Regions from separate parts of the Homo sapiens genome. Here region 2 is linked to region 1. The links come from fine-mapping of genetic effects on gene expression. A gene starts in region 1. The other region holds a variant in brackets. All regions are shown on one strand. Distances are between the middles of the regions. Region 1 holds the start of ESM1 (endothelial cell specific molecule 1). Region 2 holds the start of GZMK (granzyme K).

Region 1 (11,577 bases):
ATGTAGTCTCAAAGACACATGTAGACTACAAAGAACCCTAGGCAGCCTCCCCAAGAGGTCCTTAGGGTTTTCTGCTCTCCATCCTGAACCTGACTAAGGTTTACCAAGATCACACTAAAAATCATCTTTTGCTGGTTGCACCTTTAGCTAATGAAAGGAAATACCCTAGGTCAGAAAAGAGAGAAACTGACTGCTTTTTTCAAATATTTCTGATAAGAATCTCAATGCCTAACTTTGATGTGGAAATATTTTTGTGTAACCTATAATGTAAGTATTGTTATGGGCATCACCATACTTAAAACTAATAATTCACTTAAAAGCACGATATTTCCGCTTCATTTTAATGTGTTTAGTTGACCCATACATAAGAAGGAGGTAAAATTAGAAAACAAGCACCTTTGCCAAATAGTTTATATTTTATTAACTTGAAATGCAAAAGACCAAAAGCAAAAACTAAATAAAATGGACTTGAATTGTTATTTATAGTTGTGGTGGGAAAAAGTATATCATTTGTTGATACTAGCCATCTCTGTGACTATATGTTGGGCTTATTATTTATTTATTTTTTATAATTTTAAATACAGTTTTTAATTGACAAATAATAATTGTATACATTTAGGGTACAATATGATACTTTGATATATATCTCCACTGTGGAATGATGAACTCAAACTAAGTAGCATATCCATCACCTCATATACTTATTTTTTGTGATGGGAACATTTAAAATTTATTATTTTACCAATTTTGAAATATATAAGAATTATTAACTACAATCGCCATTCTGTGCAATGGAGGCCTAAGCTTTAGTGATGTATGTTGCTTTAAATGAGCTACTTTCAGTTTAATGGAACTCTCCTGTACTGGCCAGCTATTCAACAAAATAAACAAATATGTACATAGCACCATCTCATAGGTTGTGTATTCCTCACATTCTAACACCTGTATAAGAAATACACACGGACTAACAAGCAGCACGTATTACTACAGTTTCATTCATTTCCAAAATTTCAATCACATACTATTTCTTATCCTCTCCAAAATCCATAAAAACACACACTTGGAATTATTACACTTAAATGCTTTCATTTGGTTAAAAAAAAGAAACGTTCTATATTTTCTATCTTGACTCTTAAAGCTTATCCAATAAATTCCTCACAGTACTTTTTCTATGTGAAGTTGGGAGATAAATAGTTTTGTCTAGTAAATATATAAAACAGATCACTGAAGAATTTAAAGAACTTTGTGTATCTCAGTTGGTTATTTTTTATTACAGATTTTTGGTAATCAATCATATTTATCCTCCTATAAATCATATTTAAACCAGGTAAACTTTATGAGAAATTATATGTAAACCTCAAAATTATTGATGGGCTCTTTTTAGAAAACAGCAACAGCAACCAAACTCAGCTACCACCCACCGTTCCCCTGAGTAAAGCAAAGGAAATAAAATCATTCCAATCCACATCTTATTCTACTCACAGATATTTTCTAAGTTATTCACACTGAAATGAGACTATTCTTCCAATGCTTATACCAGAATCAGTGCTTACCCGTGAGAGAAACAAATCTGTTGGAAGACTTGGTTACTGAATATTGGAAGAAGGGGAATTTCAGGCATTTTCCCGTCCCCCTGTCACAGATGCCTGACTGGCAGTTGCAGGTCTCTCTGCAATCCATCCCGAAGGTGCCGTAGGGACAGTCTGGGGACAAAGGAAAGGTTGGAGAGGACGCTGCTTGTTGTAAATACGTCTCCATCCTAACAGCCCTGGGTGCATAGCCTTGCGATTTGAACCAACCTCATGAACCTTGACTGTAAAGTAAAATCCAATTCTCCAAACCCAGGATTTGAAAGTTGAAACTTTGAGTCATAAATATGAAATCACACATTAAGAACAGATAATGGATGCCTCGGGCTTAGTGTTGTGATGTAAAGTTAAGTTGAAGACAGCTACACACAGCCAGTCTCCTTGGACCAGTCTTCATTCTGGTGATGTTCTGCTTAGATACCAATAAATTCTCACAGATGACCTCTGTAACAGCTCAGCAAAGGTGGGAAATTGAACAGACATATATGCATCAGCTCCTCAAAGAGTTTTTAAAATGTGATGCTATCTTTGAATCTACTGTATTCACAGATAATTTACTATTTTAAGTGTATAGGAAAGGGCTTCAAACTAACCAGGGAGAGAGCTATCATCCTAGCTCACCATGAAGCAATCAATCTTCCATCTGCTCCAACCCTTATCAAGTTCCTTATTTGTCGAAACGGCATGTCATACAACTTGCCTGACTCCCTCAGTAGTTAAGAGGGCTCCCTAGTAAAATCCTCTGCAAGGCTAACATGCAAGATGCTAAATGAGCAAGAAAGCTCAGGGCTTATACACCCTGAGGGTTTGTACACCTACCAAGAACTAGAAGCTTTTAGACCTCCAGTGCTTACACTTATGCCAAAACATCCTACATTGAAATAAAGAGGACAAAGTCGTTTATTTAAAATGCATAAAATTATTTAAAATGCTGTTTTTAGGATAAACAGCATCTCAGTAGACTAACCAACCTTTAAAAGCCAGCAGAATAGATATAGAATATTCTCTTGTTGTGAAAATACCTTGTAAATGTACAATCACAGGTGGGTAAAGAACAAATTGTGAGCCATCTGAGTCTCTAGCAGTCTAATACTCCACTAACTGACCAAGTAGATCATCAATGAGCTATCTTTTTTTAAAGAGATCTATGAGTGCTCTTTTCAATATGGTTCAGATCACAGAGGAACCTGGTTTTGAACACTGTTCTCTTTGCTGGGAAGAAGAGATCTTAAAAAGGGATCCTGCAAAGGCCTGTTCCAGAAAAGCACACAGGATTAGGATTTGACTGTGCCTGCAGCGATATTGAAAACTAAAACTTTAGCCAAATTCCCAGAGATACTTCTAGTGTATCCCCTGATGTACTGAACAGTGCTGGGCAGATAGTAAGTGTTCATTAAATATGTGTTGGCTGCTGATTGTTAATCTGGGCAAGATGTTCACAGACATCTGAATATTTAGAAGACATTTGGATACGCAGCTGAAGTTTACAGTTTTCACGTGGATGTTCTTTTAAAAAGCTGAAGAAGGGAGATGATTGCCAAATGTATTATCTCTATCTCGAGTTGCTAAGGCTCACAAAGTCTCCTATTTCCAGCAGAGAGAAAAATGCTTAAAACTAGATTCATCAGCAACCTGAAGAAAGCCAAAAGAAGCAATCTTAAAGATCTTTTTAGTATCTTGATCATTCAGTAGAATACTACAGTGCTAAAGACTCCAGATGCCACACAGCTTGTTTCTTTGCCCATATGTAATGTACATTTACAATCACATGTACAAAGGCATATTATGCCAAGAGAAAAAGCAATCCACTGCATATACATGCTATATCATAAGTATGATTGTGTTAACCACTTCCTCCCTAATTTCCTTATGTGAAGTACTGTTTTCTTGGTCAATAAGCCCCATAATTTACAAAATATACAGATCCTATTCAGTTGAAAGAAACATGCATATGTGTTCACCAAACAAAATATTTTCTCAATATTCTATTTCTTATTGTATATAAACAAAAATAAACTAAGCAAAAAATAAAACTCTCCTAATACTTTAAGAATTTGTTTTTTTAATTTTGTATGTCTTGCAAATTAAAAGATGATTAATTTATACATTATATGTCTAAGAAGTAGGAGAATTAATGAGATTAGCACAATACTGGATAAATATTATTCATAAAAAATGTATTAAATACATAAAACATAATAATTATTTAGAAATTTCTCAGTCCTTTTTATAATTTTGAAAGCTTCCTGGTATTACACAACTGATGGATGGGGTTATAGCATGTGTTGCTTCTTAATAATAGCTCTTCATAATAAGATCATGAGATATCTATACGTAGAGTATTTTTAAATCATCATTCTTTTTATTCTAAACATTTTTAAAATGTTAAATATTTTAAACTAGTTACTATGTTTAAAATAAATTCTACAAATGCTTAACTACATTATTTAGCTAAAATTTCAACCGACGAAGTTTTTCTTTAAGTGTACAAGTGGTCAACCTCATTCTTTACAGACTTCCAGTTTTTATTTTTCTCTATTGTTATTTTTCCTTGTCTTAACACCATCTGCTATTTTTCCAGATGACCAAAACCTTTATAAAGTCAGATGAGGTTTGTTTTATGCTTCAGGGGACCCTCTTTGAAGAGTGAGTTATTTTGTTAGATGACTTAAGCTCACTCTATTCCATAAAGTGCATTTGTGTTTATCAGAAATATTTGATCTTGAGAGTGGCCCTCCATCCTGTGGACCCTTTCAAGATCAAAGAATCACTAAATCTGGGGGCTAGAAACCATTCCAAGAGGTTATCTAGTGCAGACCTTTGTAATCGCTGCCTCGCAGAGGAGAGAGCACCTAAGCCATCCTTAACAGATTACCTGTCAAGTTTCTAAAGTTTTCCAGAAAAGGAGCCAACACAATCTTCCATTGCAGCTTTCTTTTTGCGATCTCCTAAGGCAACGAGTAAAATGCCACACTTCTTTCTGTGCCTTCCTGCACACTGGTTTCAGTTGCTACTTGGAGCTATCCTTCAGTCTCTACCCATGACAATACCTGTGTGGTGCCTTGTCAAGAATCCACCTGCCTTTTCCCTCTTACTCTTGAGGAGCAAAGCCACCTCACCTCCCAAGCTGGCTAAAAGCTCTCAGCATGCCCCGGGAGGGGAGAGGTAAGGGGTCACTCTTTACCTTTGCAGATACCAAACTCTTCACCAAAAGGATCCTCCCCATTAGAAGGCTGACACCTCAGCCCCGGGCCACACTTCATGCCATCCATGCCTGAGACTGTGCGGTAGCAAGTTTCTCCCCGCCCTGCAGCGCACACTCGGCAGCAGCCACAGTCGTCGAGCACTGTCCTCTTGCAGCGCGGGCTGCTTTTGCACTCACTGCTGTCACAGTGTTGAGGGCAGTCCACCGCATAATTATTGCTCCAGGCGGCCACCAGGTGTGCAGGCACGAGGAGCGTGGTCAGCAGCAAGACGCTCTTCATGTTTCCCAGCTGCCTCCGGCTCGGCTCTCCAGTCGTGGTCTTTGCTGGTGGGAAGCAGCCGTCCAAACTGGTAGCTGAGCCTCTGCCTACACGTTTATGAGTTTTATACACTGGGTTGCCCGCATGCTTTCCCGTCATCAATTTCCTCAACCCAGCAGCAGCGCTGTCCTCCTGCCAGGCTCTCTTGTTTTGGTTTATGAAATCCAGGATGAAGGCTGGATTAACACGCTGCTGCCATCCAGGAATTGAAAAGCCCAAGCTGATGTCATCTGTTATGTTTAGATGGTTGTTTTGCATGAGGACTGAAAAACTCACTCACATCCGTCTCAAGGGCTCAAGGACGTCTGTGAAGGAGGGATAAAGAAGGTTGCACACCCTCCTTCAGGACGGGAATTGTTCTGACCCTGGCATATCACTTGAGGTGTAGCTTTGTCTCAGAGCCTCTGTAGTCAGGAGGAAAATGATATCAACATGAATCATCAGGACCGAAGAAGCTTCTTCAAAAAAAATAATAAACATTTGGTATTTCCCCTCAACAAATAGCTATGAGATCATTTGAAAGAAGAAAGGGTTATATTGTGTCTTTTCAATACTTAGAAGAAAGAAAATATTTTGATAGGGCTATTTTTTAAGACCCTCTCTTCCTTCCTCTCACCCCTCTCCTCAAATGTTATTTCTAAAGCAATTCATGTTACATATATCTAAGCCTATTGTGGATATAGCTGTGCTTCCAGTACAATGTGGAACTGCCTCTGAGAATTTCTTTTAAAATCAATACAAAAAGCCACAAGAGAGGTAAGATCCTTTCGGCACTGCTTCTGGGTTACTCAATTCTGGAAAAACTTATCAGTTGGACTTCTGATCCAAAACTTCCTCAGGGGAAGGCTCATCCATCACTAAGTCTGCTTGTCCAATGACGGAGTCCACCCAGAGCCCTTCCCCTCACCTCCTGGCATCTATCAGAGCCCTCACTAAAAACTGCCAAGCGCGGCAGCCAGCCCAAGGCAACAAGTGGCTCAGCAGGAAAATCAGAACACAGCCCCCAAGAAACAAGTCACAGGGAAGGGAAACATTACCCCTCAGGAAACAAGGTCTGCATGCTAAGAGGGTTACCGTGCCTAGGTCCCTCTGGGAAAACAGAGTAGCCCTCTTAAAATATCAACTGTGCCAGGGTCTTATTAAGTAAGGTTAAAGAGGAGAGAGGGGAGTTCTTACACCAACCACATGCCGAATTCCATGCCCCCACCTCACTTGTCAAAAGAGATATAGACTCACTGTCACTTAGTAAATAACAACCCAGTAAAGTGGGTAATTCTTGGTCTGTCACAAATGAGCTGTAAGAAATTCACAGGACTTCTCTTGGCCTCAGCTTCCTCTTTTGAGAATTGATGGTGTTAGGCTACCTGACCTCTAAAATTCTTGTTTCCCATAGAAGATGAGGCAGAGCGGGCATTGGATGTAACTTGAAGATCGGCTTTTGCAAATGCAATTTTAGGGGGACACAGGGAGTAAATTCAGAATACAGAGAATTGAGGCAGTAGGAAATGAAAGCAAGAGTTTTAGCTTTCAAATTTTCCAAATTTTTCATGACAATCCAATTTGAAATACTCTATCTCCCCAGAAGCACTTACTTAGCAGGTGGCACACTCTGATGTTTTCAGTAATGGGTAATATTTGTTGAGTTAATAGCTTAAACACTTTACATGCATTAACTCATTTGCACCTCATCACAATATTATGAAGTGGCTGCTATTATCATGCTTATTTTTTAAAAGAAGAAACTGAGTAAGAAAGAGGTTAATTTGCCTAAGGTCCCTATATTGAAGGGATGGATGTTAGTCTAATGTCAGAGCCACATATTCTATTGCCTATTACAATACATAATTGTGCTTTCATGGCCAATAGTTCCAATGGCCTAGGTCGCAATTTAGGCTGACCCTAGAAAATGTCCCTTGTTACTGAACACCACTTTCTGAGGAGTAGTTAACTGGAATAGTGGTTAATAATAATATCTAACCTTTACAGAGATCTGACTGTGTGCCAGATGCCATGCTAAGCAGTTTATGTAGATTACCACATTTAACTTTCAAAACAACCTCAAGAGCTAGGTGCTATTCTTATCCCCATCTTAGATATGAGAAAACTGAGGCCTAGAGAGGGTAAGTAACTTGTCCATCATCACACAGTTAGCAAATGGTGAAGCCAGGACTCCAGCCCTGAGACCAACAAGCTCTGGAGACTGGATTAAGGATTGTAAAATCAAATACATACAGGTGCCAAACAGGTGCCCAAGGTGGGTGACATGGTAAGCTATACTAGATGTAATACAGAAGGAATGGAGTGGATTTCGTCCTCCTGAATAGCACATAAAGACATGAAACTCTTCCACTATGGAAGATAAAGGGAAACCAAATTGATAATACCTTCAGTAAATGACAACTAAACAAATGTAAGTTGAGAGTACCAAATCCAAATAGTAAACCAAACTACAATGCACAGGTAAGTGCAGAAAATATGCCCAATAGAGTTCACCAGTGGTGGAACTATCTCAATACACAGTGCCTAACAACTCATTTTAGGGGAACCTTCAATCCCTCCAAGACCCAACAAAAACCATTTGTCCCAACACAATCCCTGTAAGATTTTTATCTAGTGATTTCTGTCTTCCCCAGAGCCTTGAGCCCAGATCAATGAATTCCATTAGGAAAGTTAGCAATGACCACAAAGGGTTAGGAAATGGGAGCACGAGCAACCAAGGAGCCAACTCTAAGCTGCATTAAAAAGCAATAAGATGATGGCAGAGCTGTTGATAGTGAGTGCATGAGGTCCACCCATTTCACTTGCTTTGTGCTGGGGACTGGAACATCTCTCATCTTGCTCTGCCTGTATATCAGTTGTCAAGTCAGAGTGAGAAAGGGCAAGAGGAATTGCACAAGATTTTCACAACTCCTAAAATGTAAGTTCAAACTAAGGTGGGTCAAACCATACCATCTGTGGATCCAAATGTTGCAGCATATGGTGTTTTGCAATGGGGGCAGAGAAATGATAAAACCAAATATCTATTTAACCCAGTATACCCTGTATACTTAAAATGCCACTTTGATTTTTTTCTTAAAGCTGGTATTGTGTTAGGAAAATAAGCTTTGGTAATGTGCATTAATATTTTGTGTTTATTTTGTACATTATGATTGCTTCTAACCAAATAACAAGGATTTTTTTCTGGATAGGTAAAAGTAGTCCAGTGGAAAGGCTCTGGGCAGATCCCAGACTCTCAGAAGGTGGTTTATGGTAAAGCGAATTATACCGTACTTACTGTGCCTTCCTAACAAACCAGCTCTACCAGAGAAGTCTGGTTTAAATTGAATTACAAAGGCAGACTTGAGGGCATAAAGTTTGGAGGAGCAAGTGGAGACATTTACATGCAGATTTTAGGTGATTTGGTTTTTAGGTTAGTTTTGGTTGTGGTTTTTGATACCATCTGAAAGTCTTCCTGCTTTGACACTAGCTGATAGCAATTTTGCATGTGCCTACTGCAAGGTCTAGCCCACAGCAGGAGCTTAATACTTAATAAACACATAAAAGGAACCAACTGTTTCCCAGAATCATCTTCAGATGATAGTAAGTTAAACGGGCATCAATGTGTTCCCTTTCTTTCTCTTTCCACCAGGAGAAGCAAAGTGAGGCCCAGATTCTAGGGCAGGCTAGGTTAAGCTGCAGAATGTGTTTACTTGTGGGAATGAGGTAGAGGTGTCAAGAAACAGCACATCCAATCCAAGAGACATCGAGGATTGGATGGAGCCTGAGCAAAGACTGTAGTCCCATTGCGGCAGTTCCTTCACAGCTAACCAAATTTGTCCTGTTGACCTTGGGCTTGGCAATATCACATCCACCCTGGAAAGTTCATGGGAGCCCCTCATAGCCAATAGAACTTGGTGAAATACTTCTGCCAAACTGGCTGGGATTCACGGCAGTCACAGGTCAGCTGTCAAAGCCCAGGGCCTGAGGAATCTTCCCAGAGCCTCCTGCCCTGAGTACAGTTTGCCTAGAAACAGCTTTACCACTGCCAAGATATGTGATCTTAGGCAAGTCACATGCCACATACCTTAGACCTCTCCTTTCTCCTCAGTACCTCAATAATAAGAGGGCCAAACAGGGCAACAGATATGAAACCATCGTGACTATTATTATCAAGCGTCTGATTTCTGAAGATTGGCTTCATTCTTTAAATGTGATCTTATGTCTTGGAGCAAATATTTTCCCAAAAGAAATCTCTCTAATTCTTTAAGTTTCTATTTTTAATAAAGACAATTTTAATAGCAAAGTGGAATTGAATGTACCAATATATGATTTACAGGCAATTTTCAAAAACTACACCTGCTTAGAAGAGCAAAGTGAAATGCATCTGCTTTAATTAGGCTTCTTGCCCATATGGGGGCTCTCTGATTTGTCTTGATGAGCAGGTCAACCTCGTAGGCAGCTGGGGTGCCATCACACAGAGCTCTGCAGGAGCCCTGAGTGTGAGGGTGTGTGAGTGACTGCAAGAAGATAAGGACAGGACACCCGCAGTGTCTGCTACAAACCCAGAATGTCTGGGCACCTCTCAGAGAACTTGGCACTATATCCAGATTTTTACTCCAATGGAGCCTCTGAGGAAGCAGCCACAGAGTCAGGTTGTTTTTTAACCCTGTTCAAATCTAGAAACTTCAACTTTGGGTTCACGCTGCTAGGAACTTTTTTAGAGCCAGGAAGTCTGGCTTGGAAACATGAAGAGCTCTTACTCACTGAGGTGCCTTCTTCTCCTCTTTGCCCCCAGTTCTGGCAGTTTCTAATGTGGGGCATCAAGGCAAGCTTTTCTTTCTAACAGCTAGCTCCTTCTCAAATCAGGTTCTGAATCTCGGACTCCATCAGCAAGAGATTCCTGTTTCACACAGCATCCCTCTAGCTGCAAATATGAACCCACATCCAGAAGCACCATGTGCCACCCTGACATGAGAAGCAATGTGAGTAGCAAAAGTAGCTCTGAACTCAGGACCAGAAGACGTAGGTTGGCATCCCAGTTTCATAATCAGCTATGGGTAAGGCACCAACCAGCCTCCTCATTAACATTAAGTCATTTTCTTTTAATAAAATATAAGGGAGAGAAATGCCTTCCCTTTCTCAAAGAGATGTTGAGATCAAAGGAGAATGTGGATTAAAAACATGATGCCAACTAAATTACTGTACAGGTGTAAAACATTATTACTTACTCTATAAGACAAATTAAACCATGAGAGAAAATAAACCAGTGGCTCTCTCAGGTCTCACGCATTCCTCCATTCCTCTCACATTCTGCAAGATGGTCTAGTTTCTCATTCACTTAATTCACAGCAAACCATGATGACTGAGTTTCAACATTCTTCCTTAGGAAAACTCCACCACCCCTCCTAGCAGCCTGCCTCGCCCCATCCAAGCATGGGATGACTAAACAGCTCACTAAACTTCTCTGCTAAAAGAGTTTTTAAAAGTGTCACCAGTTTCCTACATGACTAAAGAATTACTGTAGGCATTGGAAGTCATTTAGACACTAGAACTAGAGAACATAGATTTTTAAAGTCATATTAGAAGTTATTGCTAAGATATTTGGAATTTCCACTAGGAATTTTAGAAAGATAGAATTTCTGATTAACACAAGAATCATAGGAAATGATTCTGCTACTTTGCTTCTCTAATGACATGAAATTTCCTTTGCCTAACCTTAAACTGACCCCTTTTATAATGTAATAAAATGTTAATCAGGACCACCCTCACCAAACTCATCAGTTTGTCCAGTGATAAATGGCCTTAGCCGTTTATATGACATGTGAGTTGAATAAATGATTGAATGTTCAAAAAAAAGTTAACCACTAGATGAAGAGAAATAAGAAACATAACTTCCAAGCCCCTTATTTAGGACATTTTCAGGATTTGGCAGTTTCAGACTCACTCTAATTTGGCGTCAAAATATTTTGGCTTCTTTCTTCCTAGGCAGTTCCTGATGAAGCCTTTTTTTTTTTTTTTTTTTGGCTGCCACGGACTTCATGAAGTCTCCAAGCCTGTGATCTGAGAGCTTAGTGCAGCACAGCTGAGGGTGCCTGTGACGGGTCTCAGCAAGTGTGTCTCAAAACAATTCTCCACACCACCTGCATGAGAGTGTCCTGGGAAGTTTGTCAGAAATGCCACAGCCAGGGATTCCAATCTGATGGGTTGGGGTAGGTCTGGGAGTTAACATTCTTAACAAATAAGCCAGTTGATTCTGACAAACCCAAAAATTTGAGGAACCTCTAAACTAACAGTTTTTCCCAGTCACATCTCTTCAGGTTAGTGAATTAGTACTTAACGTTACTCTGAAGACTTCTGACAGAAAAAGTCTGTCTCTGAGGGATTGACCTAGGATTTTTATTTATATTACGCTCATGAATTTTTAGCTTATTTCACTAATACACATCTTCACATGTTAACATCAATGAAGATGAGATGTAATCATC
Region 2 (11,577 bases), 34 kb after region 1:
AATATATATGCACCCAATAAAGGAGCACCCAGATTCATAAAGCAAGTCCTTAGAGATCTACAAAGAGACTTAGACTCCCACACAATAATAATGAGAGGCTTTAACACCCCACTATCAACATTAAACAGATCAACAAGACAGAAAGTTAACAAGGATATCCAGGAATTGAACTCAGCTCTGCACTAAGCGGACCTAACAGACATCTACAGAACTCTCCACCCCAAATCAACAGAATATACATTTTTCTCAACACCACATTGCTCTTATTCCAAAATTGACCACATAGTTGGAAGTAAAGCATGCCTCAACAAATGTAAAAGAACAGAAATTATAACAAACTGTCTTTCAGACCACAGTGCAACCAAACTAGAACTCAGGATTAAGAAACTCACTCAAAACCAAACAACTACATGGAAACTGAACAACCTGCTCCTGAATGACTACTGGGTAAATAACGAAATGAAGGCAGAAATAAAGATGTTCTTTCAAACCAATGAGAACGAAGACACAACATATCAGAATCTCTGGGACACATTTAAATCAGTTTGTAGAGGGAAATTTATAGCACTAAATGCCCACAAGAGAAAGCAGGAAAGATCTAAAATTGACACCCTAGCATCACAATTAAAAGAACTAGAGAAGCAAGAGCAAACACGTTCAGAAGCTAGCAGAAGGCAAGAAATAACTAAGATCAGAGAAGAACTGAAGGAGATAGAAACACAAAAAACCCTTCAAGAAATCAATGAATCTAGGAGCTGGTTTTTTGAAAAGATCAACAAAATTGATAGACCACTAGCAAGACTTATAAAGAAGAAAATAGAGAAGAATCAAATAGATGCAATAAAAAATGATAAAGGGGATATCACCACCGATCCCACAGGAATACAAACTTCCATCAGAGACTACTATAAACACCTCTATGCAAATAAACTATAAAATCTAGAAGAAATGGATAAATTCCTGGACACATACACCCTCACAAGACTAAATCAGGAAGAAGTTGAATCCTTGAATAGACCAATAACAAGTTCAGAAATTGAGGCAATAATTAATAGCTTACCAATCAAAAAAAGTTCAGGACCAGACGGATTCACAGCCAAATTCTACCAGAGGTACAAGGAGGAGCTGGTACCATTCCTTCTGAAACTATTCCAATCAATAGAAAAAGAGGGAATCCTCCCTAACTCATGTTATGAGGCCAGCATCATCCTGATATCAAAGCCTGGCAGAGACACAACAAAAAAACAATTTTAGACCAATATCTCTGATGAACATCAATGCAAAAATCCTCAATAAAATACTGACAAACCAACTCCAGCAGCACATCAAAAAGCTTACCCACCATGATTAAGTGGGCTTCATCCCTGGGATGCAAGGCTGGTTCAACATACAAAAATCAATAAACATAATCCAGCATATAAACAGAACCAAAGACAAAAACCACATGATTATCTCTATAGATGCAGAAAAGGTCTTTGACAAAATTCAACAGCCATTCATGCTAAAAACTCTCAATAAATTACGTATTCATGGGACGTATCTCAAAATAATAAGAGCTATTTATGACAAACCCACAGCCAATATCTTACTGAATGGACAAAAACTGGAAGAATTCCCTTTGAAAACTGGCACAAGACAGGGATGCCCTCTCTCACCACTCCTATTCAACATAGTGTTGGAAGTTCTGCCCAGGGCAATCAGGTAGGAGAAAGAAATAAAGGGTATTCAATTAGGAAAAGAGGAAGTCAAATTGTCTCTGTTTGCAGATGACGTGATTACATATTTAGAAAACCCCATTGTCTCAGCCCAAAATCTCCTTAAGCTAATGAGCAACGTTAGCAAAGTCTCAGGATACAAAATCAATGTGCAAAAGTCACAAGCGTTCCTATACACCAATAACAGACAAATAGAGAGTCAAATCATGAGTGAACTCCCATTCACAATTGCTTCAAAGAGAATAAAATATCTAGGAATCCAACTCACAACAGATGTGAAGGACCTCTTCAAGGAGAACTACAAACCACTGCTCAATGAAATAAAAGAGGATACAAACAAATGGAAGAACATTCCATGCTCATGGATAGGAAGAATCAATATTGTGAAAATGGCCATACTGCCCAAGGTAATTTATAGATTCAATGCCATCCCCATCAAGCTACCAATGACTTTCTTCACAGAATTGGAAAAAACTACTTTAAAGTTCATATGGAACCAAAAAAGAGCCTGCATTGCCAAGACGGTCCTAAGCCAAAAAAAAAAAGCTGGAGGCATCACGCTACCTGACTTCAAACTATACTACAAGGCTACAGTAACCAAAACAGCATGGTACTGGTACCAAAACAGAGATAAAGACTAATGGGACAGAACAGAGGCCTCAGAAATAATACGACACATCTACAACCATCTGATCTTTGATGAATGTGACAAAAACAAGAAATGGGAAAGGATTCCCTGTTTAATAAATGGTGCTGGGAAAACTGGCTAGTCATATGTAGAAAGCTGAAACTGGATCCCTTCCTTACACCTTATACAAAAATTAATTCAAGATGGATTAAAGACTTAAATGTTAGACCTAAAACCATGAAAACTCTAGAAGAAAACCTAGGCAATACCATTCAGGACATAGGCATGGGCAAGGACTTCATGACTAAAACACCAAAAGCAATGGCATCAAAAGCCAAAATTGACAAATGGGATTTAATTAAACTAAAGAGCTGCACAGCAAAAGAAACTACCATCAGAGTGAACAGGCAACCTACAGAATGGGAGAAAATTTTTGCAACCTACTCATCTGACAAAGGGCTAATATTCAGAATCTACAATGAACTCAAACAAATTTACAAGAAAAAAAAACCCCATCAAAAAGTGGGCAAAGGATATGAACAGACACTTCTCAAAAGAAGACATTTATGCAGCCAAAAGACACATGAAAAAATGCTTATCATCACTGGCCATCAGAGAAATGCAAATCAAAACCACAATGAGATATCATCTCACACCAGTTAGAATGGCGATCATTAGAAAGTCAGGAAACAACAGGTGCTGGAGAGGATGTGGAGAAATAGGAACACTTTTGCACTGTTGGTGGGACTGTAAACTAGTTCAACCATTGTGGAAGACAGTGTGGCGATTCCCCAAGGATCTAAAATTAGAGATACCATTTGACCCAGCCATCCCATTACTGCGTATATACACAAAGGATTATAAATCATGCTGCTATAAAGACACATGCACACGTATGTTTATTGCGGCACTATTCACAATAGCAAAGACTTGGAACCAGCCCAAATGTCCATCAATGATAGACCGGATTAAGAAAATGTGGCACATATACACCATGGAATACTATGCAGCCATAAAAAAAGGATGAGTTCAGGTCATTTGTAGGGACATGGATGAAGCTGGAAACCATCATTCTCAGCAAACTATTGCAAGGACAGAAAACCAAACACCGCATATTCTCACTCATAGGTGGGAATTGAACAATGAGAACACTTGGACACAGGAAGGGGAACATCACACACAGGGGCCTGTTGTGCGGTGGGGGGAGGGGGAAGGGAAAGCATTAGGAGATATACCTAATGTAAATGACGAGTTAATGGGTGCAGCACACCAACATGGCTCATGTATACATATGTAACAAACCTGCATGTTGTGCACATGTACCCTAGAACTTAAAGTATAATAAAAAAAATTACAAAAAAAAGAATATAGTTTGGGATTATCTAGTGTAACTAGCAATTCAAATATATGATTGTATTTTCTATAATATTTACATCAAAGCCTTAATTTTAAACTTATTTGCACATATTTCTGTAACATAACTAATGCACTGAATATTCCCATTCATATTGTCCTTATGTGGTATTATGGTTAACAACTTAAGTCCTTCATATTTCCTACTGGAGTATATATAGTCTGTGAACGATCTATGCATCTGGAATTTTTGTAATTCTCAATGTGATTTGCTTATACCTAGTAGAATAAGTTGAATGTGGTATAAATTTATAAACTAATTCATTCATTAATTAAAAATAATAAAGAAGATACTTGGTAACTTCTCAAAAAAAAATTTAGAAGATTATGCTTTTGTTGATAATCTCTTCTCAGCCTGCAGCCTTTTTATCAAATACTTGCTATAGCAGTTGTGTTCTTAGCATATCAAACTTATGTTTATTAAGCCTTGCAAAAATGTAAAATGTGCTTCATTATTTATCCTGTAATAGTCATCAAAATTATTTCTAAATATCATTTATATACCAGGTCCCTAGTGAGGTAGTTTAACTAAAATACTGTTTTATTTGTCTTCATATTGATTTGCTCACATTGAGCCCACTTATTGTTAAATTTATTTATAAGGACCCTTCATATATTAAAGATATTGTCTTTGGGGGGAAATGCTTTCAATGTAAGTGACAAGCATTTTGCCATATGTCTTTGGATATTGCCTATGGTATTTTCTACCTTACAAAAGTCTTCTATGCTCTAACTTATTGATAGTTTCCTTTATGCCTTCCTCTCTTAAACATTATTTTTAATTTACCATCTCATTTAGTGTATATAATTATTTCATTTCCTAATAGAAAAAAGGGTGGGAGGGGAAGGTTGTATGTGTGTGTGTGTATGTGTGTGTGTTGTTTGGTCACTTTTTGGAAAAAGTATATCATATCTAGATTTCTACTTGAATTGATTCTCAATGGAAAATTAGTGAATACTGAATCAATCGATAACACTTGCTGTGTTCCAGCTTGACCATAGCAATTACTGTGTTTCCCTCATTAATGAATGTGGTCGTTCATTTTGAAATTCCTACTACTTTGCCTGCTGTGACTTCGTTTATTTTGTAAAATCATCCTGACTAGTTAAACAATTTAATTGCTTTCAGCATGATGAGATTATTTCTTGTAATGTATCTGTTTCTATTGTAAAACAATGATAACATATTTGGCTTTGGGGCACAGTACTGTATCACAGTAGTGTATCTGAGATGTTCAAATATAAATGGAAGTGTTCCATTATAAGGCCTCCCATCCTCAATTGATCATTTTTCCTTCTTTATTCAACAGTATTTATTTTCTTCCCTCCCTTCCTGCCTCCACCTTTCCTCTGGTCTTTATTACCTGGTCCTTCTCTGGTATTTTTCCCTTAACTTGGCCTACATATTTACCCGTTTTCTCCCTATAATACTGGTAGGCTCATATAGTCCTCACCTTCCTCTGTGCAAGGCAAGGGTACCTACGAGCCTGGAGCTGAAAACCTTCCTTTGGCAGTCATTACTGTTGAAAGGATTTCCACATGTGCAAATCTTTCAGGACAAGTAATTGCGGACAATGTGAGTGATCTGTCTTGAGTCCAGCGACATCACAGGGACCACCCCATGTGGCACTTTCCTCATCCCACCCATAACATTTGAACTTAGTTAAAATGAACATCAAAGCCTGCTCTAAAGAAGAAAAGAAAAAGGAGTCATAAAAGGGCAGTGTAAGGCCTGGAGACAAAGTTGAGATAGGGACAGTGTATGACCAGGCAGCCAGCACCAGCAGTGCTGGGACATCCCTATTTGCCAAGTCCTCAAGGTATTTTCCTGATTACTCCATATGTGAGGATCCTGCACTTAAGGCAATTCTCATCCATTCCAGTCACTTCATAGCTGACGTGGAGAGGAGTAAAGGAAAAGGAAGTTGAAGTACTATTGTGTGACTTAACTCAATAATGATGGTTTAGAAAACGTATCTTCATATTTATGAAAGGAAGATTTAACATGCAAAATATATTCTGATTTAAAGTTGAGATAGAGGAAGACAAAACAAATTTCCCTCAATCTCACCTTTGCCACCACCATCATTCCACCAAGAAGAGGCCCTAGAGCAGCCCTCTGAAGTATTTACATTTAAGTTGCTTAGGAAAAGGCAGTATTCCAGGTGCCCCAACCCTTATTACAGCCCCAGCTCTGAGTTGAGGGGTACTTTGCTTTCCTTGCCAACTGCCCTTAAGCTCATTCATTTTAAGGACCTAGTGGGAGGGATGGCTGTAATCTGAGGTGAGATTTACATTTTCTTGAGAACTTCGGACTTAATATCATTATATAGCACCCCAATATCCTTCCCAAGCCCAATTTTCAAAGCTGCCATAGTTTCACTATGGGTGTTAGCAGATACATTTACCAAATTAGCTAAGCCATTACTGGACAGAAGTCAAGGCCTGAAGGGTGGTGGGCTACAAGGGAGGGATCCAGTGAAATTCTGCCAAATCCTGATGTCAAGTGCCAAGGGCTGGGGATGGTTGGATAGCTTGGGAAAACTTGATATTGAGAACATTTTTCAAAGGAATGTAAAAGGGAATAAATGGGAAGAGCTTGAAACAAATCTGCTTTGCACTTATGTCTACAGAGCAGTGTTTCTCAGACTACCTGTGGGAAAGACCAATGTGTTTGGAGTTTTAGTTTGTTAATTTGTTTGTTTTTAGTTTCAGCCCATTGTGAACTGATACGTTTATACAACACAAATAAATAGAAAAAAGTAATTAAATAAAAAACAAAGGCATACAAAATACACACCCAATTTTTATTAGATTGGACAAATTTTATTTCATTAATAAAATAAATTAATACAGTGCCATGTTAAGTC[G/A]CTGTTACAGTTTCTAAACTCTGGCTCTCAATTTCTGTCCCCATCTTGCTCCAAATCGGTAACAAAGAGGTTCGGAGACTGGCACAGGTCTGCGGGCCATGCTTTGATTGGCATGGCTCTAGGGGGTGTGGCTTATAAATCTGACAGAGCAGGTGTCTGGGCTGTTGAAGAAAGGCAGTCCAAGGGATAGAACCACACGAGGCCTTTGGAGCAGTGGCACAGCTGTTCTATAAGGGTCTCCTGAAACACAGGAGAAGCAGAAACAAAACATCTCTAAGAGCAGCAAGAAAGACAGCTAAACACAGCAAAGAAGAGCCACAAGGCTATGACGTGTGAAGCCAGCCCTCCTCTGAGCACAGCCTTGCACTTGCTCAGTCCGGTACAGTTGCTGTAAAGCCATCCAAAGCAAACATGGCCCTCCCTGCAGCAGACTCAACAGAACAAAAACCAACACCCAGAAATAAATTAGATCGCCGAGCTCATCATGTTACACAGCCCACTGTTCTCAAATCCAGAATCGTGAATATAATAACAAATGATACTATTAACTGGCAAATCGGTCTAAAGCCAAAACCAAATAACTCATTACTATTAACCAACATGATTCTCAGAATTTTCTAGGTCAGCTACAAGAAAGAGTTATGAGACTCTTCCCAACTGAACTAAATCTCACCCATGTCTAATTACACGCAGTGTGTATGGCTAAATCCTTTTTCTCTTCTGCACAGCTAGCTTGTGTCTCAGAGCCCCTAAACCCCCAGGGACTTCTCAAAGGAGGCAGGCATGTAGCCAGGTTGAAAGGAACATAGAGCCGGGAGCCAGCACATAGGAGCTTAAGGGCCACCTGCTAGCTCGGTAATCTCAAGCAAGTCCCTGAATTTCAGTTTATTTATCCATAAAACAAGACTAATGACAACCACTTCCCTGGAAATACAGCTAAAAACGTTCAGCAATTTGTACAACGCTATGTGGACATTAATCCTTACTACTCAGAAATAAGCAGCTGAGAGATGTTTGTAACCATTCCCATTTCCCCCGCCACACACACACACACACACACACACAAAGCTTCGTCCTTTACAATTTATTTCTTCCTTAGAGTTTGGATCACTTCTACCTGTCACACACCATCTTCCTTACGATCCCAGCATCACTGGGATGTAGCAGGGAACTGACGCCATCCTGTCTGCCTTCCAATGTGGAACAATGGCACACAGTAGAGCATCCAAGGTACATCAACAGTGACAAAGATGACTTGAAAATTCACAGGGACATTTGAGTGGGAGTAATAAGTTTGGTTTATTAAGCTTGTGGCTTTTCTTAATCTGGCTCCTCCTTATCTCACCTTCTGCTCTGACAGGAAGTCACTGCTCTGCGTTGGTTTTGTTCATTCTGTTTAACATGTAGAAAGCTTTACTGTTGCCACACACCTGTACAAGGAAAGCAGGTTTTTTATAAAATTCTGTGTTCTGGGAGGGTACTCATTCACATACAACTTAACATACAGGGAGGTCAGGCAGGTGATTTGGTCTAGGTCATAAGCTGTGTTGCCTTGGGCAAATTACTTAGCCTCTTGGAACTTATTTCTTCCATTGTAACATAAGTTGTCCTGCTTTCCTCAAAGACATAGACATGAAACCATAAATGATCATATAAAAAGAATTTTGGAAATAAGGTATTTTACTTATATATTATTAAGTTATAATGAATAATACATAATTATAGTATTATTTTTTATTATTCCTACTCTTTGTGCTAGAAAACAATTTGAAAGGAGTCTCTTGCAATCTGCCGAGCATAATAGCTCTGGATTTTAATTCTCCTTTCTAAAATGAATGGAAGATAAAATGCATACCTCTTAAAAGAAAGATCTGTTGATTTAATGCAAATTTTGATCAGTGTTACTAGGAAGTGATTGGCATTCTGATGCGTGATCTGTTTGTATTCATTTTATATTTGCACTGCTGATCAGTGTCTGGCACAAACAGAATCTTGTAGAATCTTGAGTCTAATACCTTTTGTATTGAAGGCCTGGCAATGCATTGTCATCTGTTCCTGGGAAGAATTACAAAATGCAGTCCTTTATTTTTAAAAGACATTATTATTAAGTCCCTGGAAAAACACATGGCCATTTTCAATTAAAAATGAGTAAAAGAGAGACTCTGAATCAAAAATAGTTGCCAATGTTCACCTTTAACAACATTATGAAATCTCACAAAAATGTAACTAAAATTTAACCAAATTTGGGCAAACTTAGAGAAACGACATGAGTAGGGATGTTTGCTGCAAAACATATGGTTTTCTCTGGTTGGTGCTCAGGCTTTAGCTAAGCCACATTGTGAAGTAACCATAATCTGTGCAAGGTCCATGTCTCTCTTCATCATAAATCTATGTCCAAATGAAAAAGAGAGAAGAATGAAATATGATAGGCACCATTTTGTGCCAGGAAAAATAGTAAGTATTGCTTGAGAGCAATGGACATCTTTGAACTCTGTCTGCAACTTCATTACATTCTTATGGCATGGATATTTTTCATTTATAAATATTATATACACATATAGTATAAATTTTCTTTATAGCATAAGTACTCTGATACAGGTATTAGAGATGGTATCTCCAGATATGAGTTCTTTATGGCATACATACCTCTCCCAAAAAAGTGCTAAAAGCAATTAGCCGGATGTGGTGGTGGGCGCCTGTAGTCCCAGCTACTCGGGAGGCTGAGGCAGGAGAATGGCGTGAACCCAGGAGGCAGAGCTTGCAGTGAGCCGAGATCGCGCCACTGCACTCCAGCCTGGGCGACAGAGAGAGACTCCGTCTCAAAACAAAACAAAACAAAAAAGTGCTAAAAGCACAGACCTGAAAGTCCCCAAACTGATACATAACGTTTACACCTAGGTGTGAAAAAAAATCTTACCCCTAGAGCACCTGTGGTGAGAAAGTCAAAACTTACAAGAACAAAACTCAGTCTTCAGAATCTTCTTCCTTCATCACAGGATCAACACATTTCATCTGGGCTTCTTAAATCTAAATCTTTAAAATGACTAAGTTTTCTTCCTTTTCTCTGTTTTTCCTAATAGTTGGGGCTTATATGACTCATGTGTGTAAGTATCTCCTATATCTACATGTAAACATTAAATGAATTTCTACTGACTATATTGTTATATTATAGATGAAAATTATTTTCACAATCATTCCTATCTTTCTGAACTGTAATGTATTATACAAATTTTTCATCAGTAAAATTATTGTAGCTTTTAGGTAGGGTTATTGTTGTTTTTTAAGCTTTGAAAATAATATAGTGACTGTCATTGGAAGAATTACATGAAACAGTAGTTTAGATCTTTTGTGTGAAACCTTTTGGTCTACTTTTGTAGGTTTCAATATGGAAATTATTGGAGGGAAAGAAGTGTCACCTCATTCCAGGCCATTTATGGCCTCCATCCAGTATGGCGGACATCACGTTTGTGGAGGTGTTCTGATTGATCCACAGTGGGTGCTGACAGCAGCCCACTGCCAATATCGGTGAGTCCTCCACACTTTTCCAGACATGTGTTTTTTCTGAAAGTTATTATAGGTACAAGAGAAGCTTACCTCTCCTGAATGAGAATTTGATCTACTGTTAGCTTCTGTGGTTACTGACCAACTGGTGGCGTTTATTTACCTTCTTCCACATCCACGCTTTCTGTCTTGGGTTTTCCTTTTCAGAGAGAACTGAGCTGCTTTTCCCAGGCAAGACATTAGACAAATTCAAGTCCTCTGTATAATGCAGGGAACACAGCAACAGTAATACTTGAAGCAGCAGTACTCTTGACCTTGTTAGATCACACTGCTCAAAAGGAAATCAGACAACCTGAGCTTGCTCTGTGCTCTGAGCTTCCCCATTTTACAAAGGGGTAATAATCATATCATACCTGCTTTGTGGGTTTTGAGAATTAAATAGTATCTGTTTAAGTATTTTAGCATGCTTGGCACATTTAGTAAGCACAAAAAAATTGCAGCTATTATCATTAGTATTATACGCATGAGAAGCCTACTTTGCCACTCCTAACAGTAGCTACCTAACAGTAGCTACTCACCACTTACAACTTTCCTAGGTGGAAAAAAACAAGTTATTGATGACTTCTAGAAAGAGAAAGATAATGAGAGAGTTATTTTCTAGGATACTTAGAATGAAAGCTTTTCTGAAGACAGAGTAAAACCTTCCAAAGTCCATTTCAGCCTAGGATTCTCTTACTTCAGCTAATAAAGCACAAAACCCCTCTTGGGATGCTGCAACCATCACAAAAGGAAATGCCAGTAGAAAACTAATTTGGTATTTGTTGTTTTGTTTGTTTGCTTGGGTTTTTGGTTTTGTTTTTTGTTTGTATATATGTTTCCTTATGTTTCTTACCTAATAAGCTGAAATGGAGCCTTCTCCTTTTCTTTCACTTAAAGATCTCTCTTAGCTGTAATGGTTTGCTCTCCAGGCATTGTCTATATCTAAACAGAACAATTGAATTGATTTGCTTTTCTATGCTTTGGGGGTTTTGTCTGATTACCCCATTTAAATGGAACTGTTTGATCACAAATTGGAAGTTTTGAAGCCTGCAAACTGGGAGATCTTCTGCTATCTCTAAATAGCAAGCCACTGATTTCCAATTTAATATGGTTACTTCATTTACACAGGGTTCTTGCCCTCATAGAAATCACACTCTCATCCCCATCACTTCTCTCTTCTCCAGGGCATTTGCCCCCTCGAGATCAGAGAGACAGAGTGGGGAACTGTCAGCGAATGTTCATTTGATGCAAAATATGCACATCTTCAAATATGCTCATAATACACATTCAAATGGTCTATAACCTCCCCAGACACAGAGCTTGACTTCTAAATGTTCAACAAACTTTGGATGGAAAGAAAGAAATACACTGAAAGATCTTTCTTTCTTTCTTTCTTTCTTTGGCTAGGCCT

Evidence for each region.
Region 2: its variant is fine-mapped to the expression of ESM1 in whole blood (TOPMed, PIP above 0.99). The same link has a PIP of 0.9 or more in blood mononuclear cells.

Annotation. Positions count from the first base shown.
Region 1 is chr5:54,980,444-54,992,020 of GRCh38, forward strand. ESM1 (endothelial cell specific molecule 1) reads right to left here and starts at 5,150. Exons shown (of 3, transcript NM_007036.5): 1 at 4,774-5,150; 2 at 1,554-1,703. The coding sequence starts at 5,074.
Region 2 is chr5:55,014,657-55,026,233 of GRCh38, forward strand. GZMK (granzyme K) reads left to right here and starts at 9,600. Exons shown (of 5, transcript NM_002104.3): 1 at 9,600-9,730; 2 at 10,004-10,151. The coding sequence starts at 9,667. It overlaps LOC102467081 (a long non-coding RNA gene), which reads right to left and starts at 9,513. Exons shown (of 3, transcript NR_104662.1): 1 at 9,273-9,513; 2 at 7,972-8,056; 3 at 6,643-6,866. The variant G/A (reference allele first, on the strand shown) is at 6,627.